4 linked regions of the Homo sapiens genome follow. The protein of the gene in region 3 interacts with the protein of the main gene of each other region in a pairwise test. Each region holds a gene or a part of one and is shown on either strand. Other genes may lie near its edges.

Region 1 (3,577 bases), on a different chromosome or scaffold from region 3:
TCCATTTGGCCCTGTTCTGTCCCAACATGAAGGCAATAATTTGTTACCTCATTAATGGATCTATCCTTTTACTTTCTTAACCACTTCCTTATGCTACCCATGAAACCTAGTTGGGGCTCTGTTGTGTGTGATTTCCCCTGGCTTATTCTTTACTTTTTCCTCCTTTTCCAGGCTCAGCAGGGAGCTGCTGGAGGTAGTAGAGCCTGAAGTCTTGCAGGACTCACTGGATAGATGTTATTCAACTCCTTCCAGTTGTCTTGAACAGCCTGACTCCTGCCAGCCCTATGGAAGTTCCTTTTATGCATTGGAGGAAAAACATGTTGGCTTTTCTCTTGACGTGGGAGGTGAGTACCTTTCTATGAAGGTGATAAGCATCCACTGAGTCTTCCATATAAAGATCATATTCCTGCTCCAAGTGGCCATTACTGAGCTGAGAGATGTCATTGCCGCAGTGAGGACCTATAGGCACATGTAGGTTGAATGAAACTCTAGTTCTACCTGGAAGCCCAGACATGGGATGGGTCAGTGAGCATGGCTCTCTTCCTAGTCTCAGGCCATACCTGTGGCACTCTGATTCTACTCTCATGACATTGGACCTGGGCAGATGTGACAAATTCAGAGAACTATGATTTTGACTCAAGGGTTTGTAGATTTCCTTTTTCACTCTAATTTCAGTGTCTAAAGTCCTCACAACCATGAACAATCTGAGTATTTGATGAGACAGGGCTAAATATTGCAGTTTTTCTCCCAGAAATCATTTGAGGGTATTTGCTTTAAATTGATTGGAAAAATATGGCATAACTGTTTGCACAAACTTGGGACAAATGATATTGGGATAACGATCTACTAGAATAGGGACATTTTACCCACAGTTTCTGGGAGAAAAACCGAGGAATTTCTATCATGACCAGCCTTCAGGCCTCCTGAAATATATCTCTCACAGTGTCCTATTCTTATGCTGAGGAGCCTGAGGTCCCTGTGTGAGGATTAGACAGTGGATTGTTATGTGTGTAGGGGAATCAGCTTAATGTGTCTGTCCATGTCTGAATTTATTGCAGAAATTGAAAAGAAGGGGAAGGGGAAGAAAAGAAGGGGAAGAAGATCAAAGAAGGAAAGAAGAAGGGGAAGAAAAGAAGGGGAAGAAGATCAAAACCCACCATGCCCCAGGTGACTTTCAGCAATTGTGGATGCTTAATTCTGTGTTAACACCTGGAGGCAACAGATTCAGGGAAACCAGAGTGTGTTTGATGTCATGTTTTCAACGAAGGCTGAATTACTCCTACTGTCATTGCTGTTGGTTTTCATTGCAGTAGATGTTTAGGTTTCCATTTCTTCCTCCCCTTATCATTTACTAGCGTACCATAGGTTGACCATACTTCAAAAGCTGTACTCTCATGGCCACTGCATCGAATTTTGAGCATATTTTATGGAAAACTATTGAGCTCACTCTTTTCATGATCACAGTTTGCTGTGTGTCATGAGGGCACTAACTCAGAGTGTCCTTTTACTCCCTTACCAGTATGTCACCTGGCCAATTCACTAGGTCACTTTCTCTCTGTCTCTGTCTCTGTCTCTCTCTCTGTCTCTGTCTCTCTCTCTCTCTCTGTCTTTCTCTTTCATTGTTTTCTACCTGGCCCTGTTCTATCCCAACATAAAGGCAATAATTTGTTACCTCATTAATGGATCTGTCCTTTTTCTTTTCAAACTCTTCCTTAACGTTAGCCATGAAATCTAGCTGGGGCTGTGTGGTTTCTGATTCCCCCTGGCTTATTCTTTACTTTTTCCCACTTTTCCAGGCTCAGCAGGGAGCTGCTGGATGAGAAAGGGCCTGAAGTCTTGCAGGACTCACTGGATAGATGTTATTCAACTCCTTCAGGTTGTCTTGAACTGACTGACTCATGCCAGCCCTACAGAAGTGCCTTTTACATATTGGAGCAACAGTGTGTTGGCTTGGCTGTTGACATGGATGGTGAGTACCTTTCTATGAAGGTGATAAGGATCCACTGAGTCTTCTGGTTAGGGTCATATTCCTACTGCAAGTGGCCCTTACTGAGCTGAGAGATGTCATTGCCACAGGGAGGACCTATAGGCACATGTAGGTTGAATGAAACTCTAGTTCCACTTGGCAGCCCAGACAAGGGATGGGTCAGTGAGCAAGGCTCTCTCCCTAGTCTCAGGCCATGCCTGTGGAGCCCTAATCCTACTCTCATGACACTGGACCTGGGCAGATGTGACAAATTCACACAACTCTGATTTTGTCTCAATTTTGTAGATCTTGTAGATTTCATCCTTCACTCTAATTTCAGCGTCTAAAATCCTCGCTACCATGAACAATCTGAGTATTTGATGAGACAGGGCTGAATAGTGCAGTTTTTCTCCTAGCAACCATTTGGGGGTATTTGCTTTAAATCGATTGGAAAAATATGGCATAACCATTTGCACAAACTTGGGACAAATGATATTGGGATAACGATCTACCAGAATAGGGAATTTTACCCACAGTTTCTGGGACAAAAACCAAGGAATCTCTATGGTGATCAGCCTTCAGGCCTCCTGAAGAATATCTCTCACAGTGTCCTATTCTCATGCTGAGGAGCCTGAAGTCCCTGTGTGAGGATTAGACAGTGGATTGTTATGTGTGTAGGAGAACCAGCTTCATATGTCTGTCCATGTCTGAACTTATTGCAGAAATTGAAAAGTACCAAGAAGTGGAAGAAGACCAAGACCCATCATGCCCCAGGTAACTTTGAGCAATTATGGATGCTTAATTCTGTGTTGACACCTGGAGATGCCAGGTCCAGGGAAAACAAGAGTGTGTTCAATTTCATGTTTTCAACGAAGGTTGAATTACTCCTACTGACATGGCTGTTGGTTTTCATTGCAGTAGATGTTTAGGTTTCCATTTCTTCCTCCCCTTAACATTTACTAACTTACTATAGGTTGACCATACCTCAAAGGCTGTATGGCAACTGCATGGAATCTTGAGCAAGTTTATGGAAAATTATTGAGCCCACTCTTTTCATGATCACTGTTCGCTGTGTGTCCCGAGGGCACTAACTCAGAGTGTCCTTTGACCCCTTCATCAGTGTGTCACCCGGCCAACTCGCTGAGCTCACTTTCTCCTCTCTCTCTCTCTCTCTCTCTCTCTCCCTCTCCCTGTCTTTCTCTTTCATTCTTTTCTACCTGGCCCTGGTCTATCCCAACATAAAGGCAATAATTCATTACCTCATTAATGGATCTGTCCTTTTTCTTTTTAAACAGTTCCTTATGTTAGCCATGAAATCTAGCTGGGGCTGTGTGGTTTCTGATTCCCCCTGGCTTATTCTTTACTTTTTCCTACTTTTCCAGGCTCAGCAGGGAGCTGCTGGCTGAGAAAGAGCCTGAAGTCTTGCAGGACCCACTGGATAGATGTTATTCGACTCCTTCAGGTTATCTTGAACTGCCTGACTTAGGCCAGCCCTACAGCAGTGCTGTTTACTCATTGGAGGAACAGTACCTTGGCTTGGCTCTTGACGTGGACAGTGAGTACCTTACTATGAAGGTGATAAGCCTCCACCTGGTCTTCCAGATAGGGGTG
Region 2 (3,577 bases), on a different chromosome or scaffold from region 3:
GATGGGACCACAATGCATGCCTTCATGCTCCACGCCTGCCTTGCATGCATGCTTGCACCAAGCCTACAATGCCGCATCCACTTTCTTTGCCTAGGCAAAGCCTCAAGTCCAGATCTTGGCCATCTCCTCAAGGCTCCTTGTCCCCCGCCTGACTTCACCTAGACTCCAGAGTCATGCACTCTGATTGCCCATGCTCTACAAGCTCTAGTCTTGCTGAAGGGCTAACTCCTCATTGCCCTCTCTGGTCCCCGTGTCACCGCACTCTCCAATGTCTGCCTCTCCAAATAATGAATCTCCTTTCAGAACTCACTGCTGCATTCCCAAGCCCAGCACCAGACCTGGCACAAAATACATGTTTATTGAGTAGATGACATTTAATTTGCGAGAATGTACTTTTAAAAGTGTCCTGTAAAGCCCGAGCCTGACTGTCTGATCTCCCACGGCACCCAATCAGCTGGGCTCCTCTGAGCAGGAAGCGATGTCAGATTTAAGTGAGTTTTGTAGGATCCCTGGGAAAAGCAGAGACAGGTGGCAGGCAGTACAGCCTCAGAGTTCAATAGAGCATGCCCAAATCTCCATCCAACTACCCTCCAGTTATCTGGCCACTTGATTCCTTATCTAGAAACACAGTGAAGAGCCAGGCGCAGTAGCTCACACCTGTAATCCCAGCACTTTGGGAGGCTGAGGCGGGTGGATCACCTGAGGTCAGGAGTTGGAGACCAGCCTGACCAACATGGAGAAACCCCGTCTCTACTAAAAATACAAAATTAGCCAGGCGTGGTGGTGCATGCCTGTAATCCCAGCTACTTGGGAGGCTGAGGCAGGAGAATCGCTTGAACCCGGGAGGCGGAAGTTGTGGTGAGCCGAAATCGCGCCATTGCACTCCAGCCTGGGCAACAAGAGCAAAAATCCATATGAAAAAAAAAAAAAAAAAAGAGCCAGGCGCAGTGATTCACGCCTGTAATCCCAGCACTTTGGCAGGCCGAGGAGGGCAGATCACGAGCTCAGGAGATCGAGACCATCCTGGCTCACACGGTGAAACCCGGTCTCTACTAAAAATACAAAAAAATTAGCCGGGCGTGGTGGCGGGTGCCTGTATTCCCAGCTACTCGGGAGGCTGAGGCAGGAGAATGGCGTGAACCCGGGGGGCGGAGCTTGCAGTGAGCCGAGATTGCGCCACCACACTCCAGCCTGGGCGACACAGCGAGACTCCGTCTCAAAAAAACTAAAGAAAGAAAGAAAAACAAACAGTGAAAAACCACCCACTTCCTAGGGTTCTGGGGAGGGGTAAATGAGGGAAATCCTTATTGTCATCATCATCAACCACTGTGTTCTGATAGAGGCACTCGGTAGCTGTCATTTAAATGAGTGAGTGGTACTTGCTCCTTTGTGAAATTCTACACATGGCTTTACTTTTCATTAATAAAGCTATTTCAAAGGGGATTTTGCCAAAAGACTTTTAGATAGCTTCAGGGAATTGTTTTAAAACTAACACAATTTGCCAGGCACGGTGGCTCACGTCTGTAATCCCACCACTTTGGGAGGCTGAGACGGGCGGATCACCTGAGGTTGGGAGTTCGAGACCAGCCTGAACAACATGGAGAAACCTCGTCTCTACTGAAAATACAAAATTAGCTGGGTGTGGTGGCACGTGCCTGGAATCCCAGCTACTCGGAAGGCTGAGGCAGGAGAATTGTTTGAACCCGGGAGGTGGAGGTTGCGGTGAGCAGAGATTGTGCCATTGCACTCCAGCCTGGGTAACAAGAGTGAAACTCCATCTCGAAAACAATAAAAAATTTAAAAAACTTACAAAAAAATAAAAACAACACAATTCAAGCTGGGCAAAGTGGCTCACACCTGTAATCTCAGCACTTTGGGGAATCCGAGGCGGGATAATCATTTGAGGTCAGGAGTTCAAGACCAGCCTGCCCAACATGGTGAAACCTCGTTTCAACTAAAAATATGAAAATTAGCCGGGTGTGGTGGCTGGCGCATGCATGTAATCCTAGCTAATCAGGAGGCTGAGGCATGAGAATCACTTGAACTTGGGAGGTGGAGGTTGCAGTGAGCCGAGATTACGCCACTGCACTCCAGCCTGGGTGATAGAGCAAGACTCTGTGTCAAACAACAAAAACCAACACAATTCAACTCTTAGGAAAAGTACACCAAAGACAGCAAGACTCCTCTGGCACTAGACCAAGTCAAGCTAAGCCTGCAAGCAAGCTAAGAAGAAAGACTACAAGGCACGAAGTCAACTGGCATCTAATTAATCTCTTTAGGGATACTGAAAAAGAAAATTTTAAATATGAAATCCTACTTCCCAGGTTTGGACTGATAGATCCTCTCATGCTAATGCTATCTGGCTCTGGGAAATTCCACATCATAAATTCCCCCTAGAACCCTTGCATTCTTTGAATGGGTGTGCGGAAGGCTGAATGCTCACTGACATGCTTTATAACTATGTATGAATATAAGGTCAGAACATACATAAGTATACATACTTTATAAGTATATGTGTTCTGACCTTATATTCACTATTGCAAAAGTACCAAGCCTAGGGGAACACATTTCAGGTATCAGTTCACACCTTGCCTCTTCAGTAAGTTTAAAGGATAGTCAAAATCACTTCATTATCTCCCCTTCATAATAGGAATTTAATCCATATCTAGGCAAAGTCAATCTGCAGAAATATTGGAGGGACTAAGAAAGTTATGCAAATCTCTACTAGTTGAGGTCATAATAGTAAAAATCAAATTAAAAAGAGAAGGCCGGGCATGGTGGCTCACACCTGTAATCCCAGCACTTTGGGAGGCCGAGGCGGGCAGATCATGAGGTCAGGAGTTCAAGACCAGCCTGGCCAAGATGGTGAAACCCCGTCTCTACTAAAAATACAAAAAATAGCCTGGTGCAATGGCAGGTGCCTGTAATCCCAGCTACTTGGGAGGCTGAGGCAGGAGAATCACTTGAACCCAGGGGGCAGAGGTTGCAGTGAGCCGAGATCATGCCACTGCATTCCAGCCTGGGTGACAGGGTGAGATTCTGTCTCAAAAAAAAAAAAAAAAAAAGAAAGAAAAGTTCAGAGATATGTTTTCTTCCTAAGAAAACCTATGCAGGCATTGCTGGGTTGCCTAAAACCAACTTCCAAATACATTTTTGGTTTTAGGTATGCCATCTCACACACCACACTGCTTGCTCCTAAAACATTATAACAGTGAGCATTTAGAATGGGTGGGATGGCTCATGACTGTAGTCCCAGCATTTTGGGAGGCTGAGGCAGGAGGACAGCTTGAGCCCAGGAGTTCAAAACCAGCCTGGGCAACATAGTGAGACTCTGTATCTACAAAAAAATGTTAAGGCCAGGCACAGTGGCTCATGCCTGTAATCCCTGCACTTTGGGAGGCTGAGGCAGGCAGATCACCTGAAGCCAGGAGTTCTAGACCAGCTTGGCCAACATGGTGAAACTGTGTCTCTACTAAAAATACAAAAATTAAGCCGGGCATGGTGGTGCATACCTGTACACACCTGTAATCCCAACTACTCGGGAGGCTGAGGCAGAATTGCTTGAACCCATGAGACG
Region 3 (2,228 bases):
TCACAAAAAAAGTTACATAAAAACCATAAAATAATTTCCTATAGTAGTGCTATATTACATAAATAAACATAGGTGCTCAAATATCACACACCTAAGATAGCTTCAGAGTGAATTTGACTTCTAGGTACTTAAAATTACCACCACTTTAATATTAAGGAATTATAGCTACTCAACTATTTAACAAGGAAGACTCAACAAAAATAAAAAAAAATCACTCTTTATCTTAAATTTCAGTATTTGCTGTCATTAACTAAGGCAAATACCAAATATCAAAATGAATATTGGTCTATTTAAGTAAAACTGAAAAACTTTACCCACATATTTTCCTAAGCTGTAAAATTCCACTTGCTTAAAAGAACACATTCATCTTTTCAAATAAGAAGAGGCAATAAGAAAAATAGACCAAAAAAAAAAAAGATAAACTTTGTCTAAGTATGAAAGCAAAAATCACTTCCTTAGTATCTTAAGGGCCTTACTTGACATGCTAAGGTCCTTAGTCTCCTGAGTTTCATGCCCACATTTAGGACAAGGAGGCTGTTTTCCTTTTTCTTGCTTAAACACTTTGCTCCTTGTATGATCATCACAGAAACAAGCCTGTATAGGAGAAGCAAAATAAAGTAAATAAATAAAAATGTAAAAATATACAAAAAGACAGTATTCAGTGTTTTAAAGATATAGCTTTATTAAGGCAGTGAGATTAACAATTTTGTTGGGAGCAGTCACACTTCTCATTTCATTTTCTTAACAGAAATGGTTTTTGTCAGGACCCTTCTGAACAATGATCTAACAAAAGGCAGACTATATTGAGTATGACATGTAAGTACATTTAGCTGTTCACAAATATTTCAGTACTCATAAGGTCCCTGATGAAATGAAATAATGGTGAACAGCCTATTTACTCTCACACAGTGTATGGTCTAACTAGGGATGGAGACAGTGAAAAGGCAATTACAAGACACTAAGCACTGAACGGGAAGTGCAGAGGGAAGGGCACTAAAGCAGACATGGGATTTGGGAAAGGCATCTTAGAGACACGAAGTCTTAATAGCCATATGAAGAATGGGAGGGCAATAGGGTAAGCCAAGATGGAAAAGTATTCCAGACAAAGAAAACACAGATAATGCCTGAACACCATTTGGTAAAACTAGAACAGAGTTGGAAGATAAATAAGACATAGGGTTAGGAATATAAGAACTAGAGAAACGCTTCTGAGAGGAAGGGCATTGGCTGCATCTGTTTAGTAATCTTTGACGAACGAATGCTAGAGACTAGGCCTAAGGACACAGAAAAATTTGGAAATCTTTACCCAAACTCTTCTAAGCAGGTATATTTTGACATTAATTAAAATAGACTCTCATCATCTTGGTCAGAATGTTCTCCACTAAAAACACAGAGCCAGGATTCCAGAGAAATGTGCACTAGCCACAGCTCTACTAAAAGGTGACTGGATGACCATTGGAAAGTCATGTAAGCTTTCTCAACTTCAATTCCACAGTCTCAAAAATAAAAGAATTAGACTACATAATTTTAAGGTCCCTTATAAATTAATTATAGCTGCATATAAGCCAAGGACTGGTGGAGGGGTATAGAGATTAAAAACAAAATCTAAAAAGAAAAAAACGCATTGGTATACCTTACAACGGAGACATGAGTGCTGACCAAGCCGATTGCATGAAACACCTGTGGGAAATAGATTAATTTTAAAATCCCGTTATTTGGTTCTTAGAATTTTCTTTTGTCTTTTATCAAATCACTAAAAGCTTGCAATGGAATATAGCCTTATAGACAGCTGCCTGTCTTTTGGGTTCAAATGCTATAAAACACACAAAGCTCCCATGCTGCAAATAAAATAATTAAATTTATTATTATACATTCTGCAAAAGGCGACGAAAGGCTCAAAAATGCTATATACTTCGAGATGCTCTTTTAATCTGAGAATTTTATATATAAATATTGCAAGAATTATATACACATGCATACACATTGTGTGTCTATGTGTGTGTAGTATGTATGTTGTATGTATATCACAGAGATGACTTATCTACTTTAAATTTATAAATAAGTATAATAATTAGGATTTCATACCAGAACAAGAACCAAATTAAAGGAAGAGAATACCTGGGGAATTTCGGTCTTTTTCCTATAATAGTAACTACTATTTAAAAAGGGCTTTTTAAATGCCAAGTACCACATGCTATTGTTTTATATGGTGTCTCATTTCAATGAAC
Region 4 (2,822 bases), on a different chromosome or scaffold from region 3:
GAGAGGTGCAGAAAGGAGGGGGCAGACCCAGGAAGTGAAGTTGGTAATAGTAAAACTCTTTTGAAAAGATTTTTCCTTACAAATTATAGAACTTGAGAGCCACACTGCATCAGCAAGAAGCTTCCAAACACAAAACTTCTATTAACTGTGACTCTGCCCAGTGTGCAGCCCAGTTTGTCACGCAATTCCCCATGATCAATGGAAATATGCTTTTCTGGGTACTTGGCAAGATAATACTGATCAAGAAAGTGCTGGCCATTTAAGCCGTGCAATTGGGAGGATGGGATGCCCTTTGATTAGATGAGGAAGCCACAGAGCTGAATTTTGTTTGGTCAGATAACAAGTTTAAATTTCAATATACAGAGGTGTCTAGCGGGCTGTCCAGAAAAAAAAAGATCAGGGCTTGAGATGAGGGTCTGGGTAAGTAGTGTGGAGGCTAGTTGAGGCTGTGATGGTGAGGAACATCTAACTCAGGAATACTGAGTTGTCTTTTGTTTCCCTTCTGATAAGAAGTTGTAAGCTCATCCAGAAATACTCATTTTGCTTTCAATAGATGCTATTGATTGATGTCTCATTTAATTCATAAATTTTAATTTTATTTTCAGTAAACAACAATGTTCAACTTTTATGCACCAAAGTAATACAGAGTCACGCAGCAATAAAATCGTGTTTATTTAGTGATATGACAAGTAGAGAAATCAAACATAATATTTTACAAAATGTACAATTTATATTTTTATAAATACTTTAAAAGAGAGAAGCGGAACACGTGTGGTGGCATTAAAAGAATGTCTAGATTTAATTTTGCAGCCTACCTTGTAGCCTGACAAACCAGATACATGTATGTATACACATATATCTTGATCATGAGTTTTCATAATTATGGCCCAAGGATAAGTTTTGGGCATGTCTACAATAATTCCAAACTCTCATAAAATGTGTGGTCTCTCACCACCAGTCATGTTGATTTTGCTCTATTTTTCTCAAAATTCCACAAAATGCACATTTGAAACAGCTATCAGAGGATGTAAGCAAGTGCTTTGGGCCTCAGTTTACTCATCAGTTAGATGAGAGAATCCCTGCTAATATGCTGTTTCTGCTTAATTAAAAAACTTGGGGGCCTCAGCAGCTTCCAATATATAAATGTCTGAGGGCTATGAGGGACCAGTCATCTTTGTATTGGGAGTTTTCTGTTTAGTTTCTTTCTATTGGAAAGGAGTCAATGTGTCTTAAATGGAGAAAGTTTATGACACCAGTCCACTTAGTAAACATTTCATTACTGTAGATACAACACGTTTCCTAGTGTAAAACTAAACAGAAAAGTAATAGTCATCTCTGGATGTCATGTTGAAGAGCTGCATGTTTCCTTGGATTTGGAGCTTGGAAGTTCAGAGCTGGTTTACCCAAAAAGGGAGCCAATAGAGAATCTTCCCAATGAACCTCAATATATGGTTGTAATACTTGTACAATGAAATGTTAAGTATGATTCTAGACTTCACTGACTCATTACAGTGATATTTTCTTGGAATTGCACTAGTGCACAACAAAATATGATGAGTGCAATGTGAAACAGTCTACAAAGTAAATTATATACTTGTTTTCTTAAATTTATAGAAATTTGCATTTGTAATAAAACCACAGGAAAGTAAGTCATTCCTAAGCCATATCCTGAGCTTACCTTGATTCCAAGTTTACAGTTAATTACATTTTTTGTTAAATAAAAGACAGATATAAAGGTCCTCATATGATCACATTAGGAAAATACATAGGATTCAAGGATGAAATCGTGATTCTTCATTACTTTTCTTATATTCCTTTGATGGTGGGTGGCGCAGCAGCTACAGGTGCTCTGTAGGTGTGCTTCTTGAGTGACAGGTTACATTTTCCCTCTGGTAGTCTTCAGCTCCAGCTCCTGGAGGAAGGCCTCATTGTTCTTAGGACAGTTGGTGTGACAGGTGCAGGTCCCAATGACCATCACTGGCTTCTTGACTATTTGCCCTGGGGAGCACTGAAACTCTGCCTGGATGGTTTTGGTATTGTGGGGAGTGCAGCAGCGGCCATCACTGCAGACCCCACAGAACCTGGGCTTGTAGGTGTGCAGGCTGGTGCAGTTCTTGAACTGCAGGTGGATGGCTTTGAGTGACTTCTTGGTGCGGAGACACTTTTTTCCTTTCTAAGAAAGAAAAAAGAAGTGATGTATTGAATGGCTACCATTCCCCTGAGGGACAATTTTAGAGTATGGAATTACCTGCTAGTTGCCCACCCAATATCTATTGGTCTTTCTTCTTTGCTATCAGAACATTAATTTTGCTTGAGCAATGTAGTCAGCTAAAAGTATTTGCTTCCACAGACTATGTGGGACTTGGGATAACCTTGTGGCAAAGTTCTGGCCAAGAGAATCTGGGAAATTCTTTGCCCTTTGAGTAGGTACAATTCTTTATTGTTCCTGTATTCATTTTCCTTTCTTCCTGGAATGTAAACACCTTGCCTAATTGTACATAATGGTCTTTTGACATTGAGGAGATGAGCATGCAGGTGAAAGCATAACAAAACCTATCTTTTAAGACACTGTAACATGCTTTGGTGTCATTTTTAGCCAAATGGATTTTTACACGTGATACAGTTTGGTTCTCTGTGTTCATACCCAAATCTCTTCTCATATTGTAATCACCACGTGTCAGAGGAGGGGCCTGGTGGGAGGTAATTAGATCATGGGGGCAGATTTTTCCCTTGCTGTTCTCGTGATAGTGAGTTCTCACAAGATCTGATGGTTTAAAAGTGTGGCACTTCCCCTCTCACTGTCTCTCTCTCTCTCTTTCTGC

What was found.
Region 1: the proteins of ZNF330 (region 3) and NBPF19 interact in a two-hybrid assay, tested with the Homo sapiens proteins (one large-scale study listed by BioGRID).
Region 2: the proteins of ZNF330 (region 3) and PBX4 interact in binary tests that used the Homo sapiens proteins (3 or more experiments, as listed by UniProt).
Region 4: the proteins of ZNF330 (region 3) and CCN3 interact in binary tests that used the Homo sapiens proteins (3 or more experiments, as listed by UniProt).

Annotation. Positions count from the first base shown.
Region 1 is NC_000001.11:149,547,979-149,551,555, forward strand, and holds part of NBPF19 (NBPF family member NBPF19), read left to right. Parts: intron 1-171; coding exon 172-344; intron 345-1,058; coding exon 1,059-1,167; intron 1,168-1,796; coding exon 1,797-1,969; intron 1,970-2,688; coding exon 2,689-2,740; intron 2,741-3,348; coding exon 3,349-3,521; intron 3,522-3,577.
Region 2 is NC_000019.10:19,608,633-19,612,209, forward strand, and holds part of PBX4 (pre-B-cell leukemia transcription factor 4), read right to left. Parts: intron 1-3,577.
Region 3 is NC_000004.12:141,230,891-141,233,118, reverse strand, and holds part of ZNF330 (zinc finger protein 330), read right to left. Parts: intron 1,681-2,228; coding exon 1,634-1,680; intron 595-1,633; coding exon 477-594; intron 1-476.
Region 4 is NC_000008.11:119,422,187-119,425,008, reverse strand, and holds the end of CCN3 (CCN family member 3 precursor), read right to left. Parts: intron 2,174-2,822; coding exon 1,877-2,173; 3' UTR 575-1,876; downstream 1-574. UniProt on the Homo sapiens protein: Immediate-early protein playing a role in various cellular processes including proliferation, adhesion, migration, differentiation and survival. Acts by binding to integrins or membrane receptors such as NOTCH1.